2 linked regions of the Homo sapiens genome follow. The protein of the gene in region 2 purifies or fractionates together with the protein of the main gene of each other region. This does not show direct contact. Each region holds a gene or a part of one and is shown on either strand. Other genes may lie near its edges.

Region 1 (3,500 bases), on a different chromosome or scaffold from region 2:
AGAACACTATATTCATTATCAGTCACTCCCCATTTCCCTCTTCCCGAAGGCTCTGCAACCATTAAACTGCTTTCTATTTCTACAAATTTGCCTATTCTGGAAGTTTCATATAAATGGTATCATACTGTAGTGGCCTTTCATTTGACAGGCTTCTTCACTGGTGTAATATTTTCAAGGCTTATCCATGTTGTCACATATATCATACTTCATTCCTTTTTTTCTGACTGCAGCCTCGACCTCCAGAGTTCAAGGGATCCTCCCACCTCAGCCTCCCAAGTGCATAACCATGCCTCCCAAATGTGTACCACCATGCCCAGCTAATTTTTCTATCTTTTGTAGAGATGGGGTTTTGCTATGTCACCCAGGTTGATCTTGAACTCCTGGGTTCGAGCGATCTGCCTGCCTTGGGATTACAGGTGTGAGCCATGGTACCTGGCCCCTTCATTCCTTTTTATTGCTGAATATTCCATTCTATGGGCAATACCACATTTTGTTTATCCTTTCATCAGGTGATGGACATTTGGGTTGTTTCTAGTGTTTGGCTATTATAAATAATGCTATATGAACACTCATGAATGCATTTGTGTGTGGACATATACTTTGAATTCTCGTAGGCATATACTTAGGAGTAGAATTGCTTGAATTTTTGTTAACTCTATGTTTATCATTTTTAAAGAACTGCCAAATTGTTTTCCAAAGTGGCTGCACTTGTGAGGGCGATCTGGCTGCGACATCTGTCACCCCATTGATTGCCAGGGTTGATTTGGCTGATCTGGCTGGCTAGGCAGGTGTCCCCTTCCTCCCTCAGTGCTCCATGTGAGTCCTTCCCGAAGCTGCGTGCTCGGTTGAAGAGGACAACCATCCCAATAGAAGAGGACTGGTCTTTGGTCAAGGGTATACGAGTAGCTGCACTCCCCTGCTAGAACTTCCAAACAAGCTCTCAAGGTCCAAAGTGGCTGCACCATCTTACATTCCCACCAGCAATGTATGAGGGCTCCAGTTTCTTCAATTCTCACCAACACTTGTTTTTGTCCATTTAAAAAATTACAGCCATCCTAGTGGTTGTGATGTGGTATCTCATTCCTGGTTCCTATACCTGAAACATCCTTTCTTTCCTTGCCTATATTCACCTATTGAAAAACTATATTTCAAATAGTACCTCCTCTATGAAGCCTTTTCTTGATCACCCTAACTAAAAGTGATTGCTTCTTTTTTTAAATTCTGCAAACATTGCATATATATTTCTGGTGGTGTGTGTATTTCCCTTATATCACATTTCTTTGTATATTTGTTTTACAATTACACTAAAAAATTCCTCAATGGCAGATACAGTATTTTAGTGATCTCTGAATTCCTAGACTCCAAATCCTTCTAAGGAGGTGTGTATGAGGAGGCGAGAAGATAAGGCAGATTATGATATGTACAAAGAGGAAATATTAGTACATATTTGTGTTTTTGTTGACTTGTGTGTGTATGTATGTGTGGTGGATTAAATTTTGGGGGTACCTGCAAAATATTCCCTTGGGAAAATTACTTAATTCTAGGAACTGGGGCAACAATGGAGAAGGCCAAATCATTATGTGCTACCCTCTGATGGAAATGGGGATTATTTACTTTAAGGATTTATAATCTTAAATGGTTTTTATATCTACAGAATAATAATAAAGTTGTACAATGTTTTTACTTTAAGTTCCTTCCTATTTTCCCCACTGCATAACCCAACAAAATTTTCTACTTAAGATCAATGTACCCATACTAGAAGCCATGTGTTGAGAAGTTGTTGGATGAAGATGGCCAAAGATAGTGCTGGTATCTAGATTTGTGTCAATTTTTTCTTCGTTTTTTGTTTTTTTGAGACAAGAGTCTTGCTCTGTTGCCCAGGCTGGAGTGCAGTGGCGTGATCTCGGCTCACTGCAACCTCCGTCTCCCAGATTCAAGCAATTCTCCCTGCCTCAGCCTCCAGAGTAGCTGGGATTACAGGTGCCTGCCACCACACCTGGCTAATTTTTGTATTTTTTAGTAGAGATGGGGTTTTGCCATGTTGGCCAGGCTGGTCTCAAACTCCTGACCTCAGGTGATCTGCCCACCTCAGCCTCCCAAAGTGCAGGGATTACAGGCATGAGCCACCGCACCCAGCCAATTTGTGTCAATTTTTTAATAGTTAAATTCCATTGAAATTGAGCTGTTTTATTCATTTGAATAACTCTTGACTGAATTCAGTATTTCTGTTGTAAGCTAAAAATCACAGCTCTCTAAACCTTTTGGGGAGGATGGGATTTATTGCCATGGTATTTGTTTCTTGTATTTTTTTCCTTATTTAATTAACATATACATATTTGACCTCCGATGGTCTGCTTCTGACTCATTAGCTTTCAGAAGCAATACATATTTGGAAATATTTTTGAATCAAACCAAATATATATTGTGCTCATTTAAGATATATACCTTCATCTCTCCTAATAGATCAGTTTTTTGTTTGTTTTTTTGTTTGTTTTTTGTTTTTGTTTTTGAGACAGAGCCTTGCTCTGTCACCAGGCTGGAGTGCAGTGGCGCGATCTCGGTTCACTGCAAGCTCTGCCTCCTGGGTTCATGTCATTCTCCTGCCTCAGCCTCCCAAGTAGCTGGGATTACAGGCCCACGCCACCATGCCCAGCTAATTTATTTTTGTTTATTTAGTAGAGATGAGGTTTTAACATGTTGGCCAGGATGGTCTTGCTCTCTTGACCTCGTGATCTGCCCGTCTCAGCCTCCCAAAGTGCTGGGATTACAGGCGTGAGCCACCGTGCTCCCCGTTTTTTTTTTTGAAAGGGTCTCTCTTTGTGGCTTAGGCTAAAGTGCAGTGGCAGGATCTCCACTCACTGCAACCTCCACCCCCCGGTTCAAGCAATCCTGAAGCCTCAGCCTCTCGAGTAGCTGGGACTATGGGCATGTGCCATTATGCCTGGCTAATTTTTGTATTTTCAATAGAGACGGGGGTTTCTCCATGTTGCTCAGGCTGGTCTTGAACTCCTGACCTCAAGTGATCAGCCCGCCTTGGAAGTGCTTTGGGAAGTGCTGGGATTACAGGCGTGAGCCACCACACCCAGCCACCTTTCTTCTTTTCTTGAACCCTTTTGTGTTTTAGTAGATTTGTAATAATGGTCAATTATTATCTTTGAGCAGAAATTAACAAGTATGTTTTTGTAGTGCAATAGCTATGTATGTTTTTATAGTGCAATAAAGTTTGTGAAATGAGATTTGCCTACCAAGGTTTTCTCCTTTCAGAGGAAGAAAAAGTGGCTTTTGTTAACTGGATAAACAAAGCCCTGGAGAATGACCCTGACTGTAAGCATCTTATACCCATGAATCCCAATGATGATAGTCTTTTCAAGTCACTTGCAGATGGCATCCTTCTTTGGTGAGTTGAACTTCTGGTTAAGGAAGCTGCGTTCTTGCTGATTACATTGATGAGCATTCCATGAAAACTCCAATTCAGCTGTCCATTGTCTTTTGGAGTCAGT
Region 2 (3,852 bases):
AGGCATGACAAACAGGTTTGAATTCCAGCACCAACTCTGATCAACTAATAGTAGCCTGCCTGGAGCACTGCATTAAAAAGGGCTCCAGACTATAGGAAAATATACCAAAATCAATTAACAATGTCTGCTATGGGTATGGAATAAGATATTGACCGTGCACACTATGTTTTCGCCATCCCTAATAGTCTCCACAGAGCAAGCAGTTTCTACCATCTTTCTATTTACTCTATCCTTCCCTAGACTGGTATCACTGAAAATCTCATATGGGCAATCATTCATTTTTGCCTCAGCTTCCTTTGTCTCCCAACAGTGAACTACTATTCCACAGTCTACCCATAACCAAAGTGGGGTCATTAAACTTTATTTTCCTGTCCAAAAGTAATGAAGTCTCTCTGGCATTTCCATTAAATGTAAGAATCAGAACTGGTGTCATCTCATCAGGCTCATCTTCCTCCAACCAAGATGTTCTAACCCAAACTGAAAATCTTGAAATATCTGTTTAAGAATCTTTAATGGCTTCCTATTGATTAAGAAATAAATCTAAACGCCTCAACCAGGCATTTCGAAGGCTTCCAAAATCTGGGACCATTATGCATACGAAATTGTATCATTTACCATTCTTATCCAGTTAGATTTGTCTCTTTGACCACTTCACACATGTTTATGCAACTTGGTATTACTTCCTGTCTTCTGTCCTGTATAAATTGTACTTTTGTCCAATATCCAGTTTATTGGCTAGCTACTATAGATAAATCCCTGGGCTGACCACTCAAATCTTTCTTCATGGCCCAGCACTGTGGCTTACGCCTGTAATCCCAGCACTTTGGGAGGCCGAGGTGGGCGGATCACGAGGTCAAGAGATCAAGACCATCCTGGCCAACATGGCGAAACCCCATCTCTACTAAAAATACAAAAATTAGCTGGGCATTGTGGTGCATGCCCGTAGTCACAGCTACTCAGGAGGCTGAGGCAGGAGAGTCTCTTGAACCTGGGCAGCGGAGGTTGCAGTGAGCCGAGGTTGCACCACTGCACTCCAGCCTGGTGACAGAGTAAGACCCCTTCTCAAAAAAAAATAAAAAAATAAAAAATCTTTCTTCATCATGGAGTCTTCTTCGAATATTATTCCCATCATGGTGTCCCCTTTTTCTAAACTCCTAAAACATTTAAGTTAGTATCGTCTAATACTCACACTACTATTCATTCATTCATCTATTCAGTTTAATTTATTGTAAGACTTTATTCGGGCCCTTATTTCTGTTTTACTATATGATGTTTCTAGAATAATTATTCTGAAAAACTGATATAATCATCTCTTGCCTGCTTGGTTGCCAACACCTTAATGCTCATACTCTACAGCATGGTACACAAGGTCTTTAATGACTTAACCCTAGTGCACTTCTCCAGCCTGCTCTCCCACCACTCCTCCTGTAAATCCTAAGCTCCAGCCATGAGGGATACTAAACAAATGCTGTTCTTTACTACCGCAGGCTCTTTCACATCTCATTGTCTTTACAAATATGATTTTCCATTCTCTTCACTCAATACTCCCCACCGCATTCCCAACTAGTCAACAATTCAAGCAGCACCTTGCCGTGGAACCTGCACCACCACCCATATGCATACATACCACATAACTCCTCCTCAGCACTCCCTGTTAATAACTCTATTATCATGTATTGAATATGCTTTAAGTGTGGCTCTACTTGTCTTTTTATCTACATGTCTGTGAATCACAGTGTTATTATTGCTCCTTAATTGTTAATTGTTTCATGTTTCTATCACATCTGTTTCTTGTGAGAGATGAATAAAGTATGGTGTTTCTTTTGTGTCCCCTACTTCACATAATGCCGAACACATAGTAAATATTAATAAACACCTGCTGCTTTCAATTTCTGAGAATAGCTGCCCAAACACCATCTGACAGATTCTGCAAGTGTCATATTCCTTGTTGGTCATGTGGATTCACTAACATTAACTTTTGTCTTGTGACATGAGGTAAACTTAGGATTTTGATGCAATAGGCATTGTTCATAGTCTGCTGACACACAGAGCCAGTGTCCATAATATGTACATTAAAAATAAATTAGTAACCAAAAGATCAAAACACTTGGATTTAAAATGTAGAGAAACAACATACCCAGATGAAGCAGTACATTCATCATTATGTAAGAGATGATGGAACCTGGGTGCCCAACTAACTGTGACCCTGGGCCAGTGTAAAAAGTCCCCTCCCCTCAACAGCAATAACAGCCACATTTACTGAGTCACAGTATGTGGTAAGTATACTAAGTACCTTGCATTATTTCTTTTGTAAGCATTATCTCCTTCAAACCTCCAAACAAAGTTCTGCTTATCCCCATTATAGACATGAGAAAAATGAGGTTTAGAGATATATAACCAGAAGTGGAAGTGCCAGGATTTGAACCTCACCTGACTCCAAAGCCTGTATTCTTTTCTCACTGGACTTCAACCAGTCCCTGCAAAATGGAGATGATGTAATCTATTTTTCACTACCTCAAAGGGATATGAAAAGACAAATGAGATTCACCAAAATTTAAGTATCCTCCCTCTTAAGAGGAAAAAACCAGAACATTGAGAAGTTTGAGAAATTTATGCTTATTAATTATTTTTTCCATGTATTCATATTCTATTAACAATGCTAATAGTTTTAGTAGTTAAGGTTTATTGAGCACTTATTATGTGCTAGGTAGTGTTCTAATTGCTTTGCCTGAATTATTTATTTCTCACACAACCCTACTGATATGGTTTGGCTGTGTCCCCACCCAAAAGCTCATCTTGAATTGTAATCCCCATAATCCCTACGTGTCAAGGGCAGGACCAGGTGGAGGTAATTGGATCACAGGGTTGGTTTCCCTCATGCTGTTCTCATGATAGTGAGTGAGTCTCGGGAGATCTGATGATTTTATAAGTGTCTGGCATTTCCCCTGCCTGCACTCACTCCGCCCTGCCGCCCTGTGAAGAAAGTACCTGCTTCTCCTTTGCCTTCTGCCATGATTGTAAGTTTCCTGAGGCTGCCCCAGCAATGTGGAACTGTGAGTCAATTACATCTCTTTCCTTTAAAAATTACCCAGTATCAAGTATTTCTTCACAGCAGTGTGATAACGGACTAATACACCTATAAAATAGGTCTCTGTGGCTTACAGATTAGGAAACTGAGTGGGTTTATTAGCTGAGACTAGGCTAGTAATTATTAAAGATATAATCCAAACTCAAATGATCTGACTCCAGCACCCATAATCTTAACCACCACCATATATTACCTCCTATCCATAATAAGGAGAAAAATACCCACCTCCCTAGCCACAGGATTATTGTAATGATCCAAGAAACTAAAGTTTAAAACTTCAAATAAAAGCACCTTATAGTGCTCTAAAGTACTACACAGTTGGTGTTATCTTTACATGATGAATAAGGAATCATCTGATTTACATAAAAAAGCAGCCAAGTCCCAAGCCAAATGTAAAGACAAGTTATAATTACTATAGAATACAAGACCATTTTTTAAGTGTTCAGGGAAAGAGAATTTAAAGAATCTGGATTCCTCTAAAACAGCCAATTCAACATTAAGGAGTAATGAAGCCTGAGGCAAACAGGAAAATATATGTCCAATTGTGTTTTATTTTTGTTTTTGTTTTTTTGAGTCAGTGTCTAGCTCTGTCGCCCGGGCTGGAGTACAGTGGTGCGATCTCGGCTCACTGCAAGCTCCGCCTCCCGGGTTCACGCCATTCTCCTGCCTCAGCCTCCCCAGTAGCTGGGACTACAGGCGCCCGCCACCACGCCAGGCTAATTTTTGTATTTTTAGTAGAGACGGGGTTTCACCGTGTTAGCCAG

What was found.
Region 1: the proteins of GALK2 (region 2) and PLS1 purify together in Homo sapiens (affinity purification with mass spectrometry; 2 studies listed by BioGRID and IntAct, with this or other methods). This does not show direct contact.

What each region holds. Positions count from the first base shown.
Region 1 is NC_000003.12:142,672,893-142,676,392, forward strand, and holds part of PLS1 (plastin-1), read left to right. Parts: intron 1-3,264; coding exon 3,265-3,397; intron 3,398-3,500. UniProt on the Homo sapiens protein: Actin-bundling protein. In the inner ear, it is required for stereocilia formation. Mediates liquid packing of actin filaments that is necessary for stereocilia to grow to their proper dimensions.
Region 2 is NC_000015.10:49,278,068-49,281,919, reverse strand, and holds part of GALK2 (N-acetylgalactosamine kinase), read right to left. Parts: intron 1-3,852. UniProt on the Homo sapiens protein: Acts on GalNAc. Also acts as a galactokinase when galactose is present at high concentrations. May be involved in a salvage pathway for the reutilization of free GalNAc derived from the degradation of complex carbohydrates.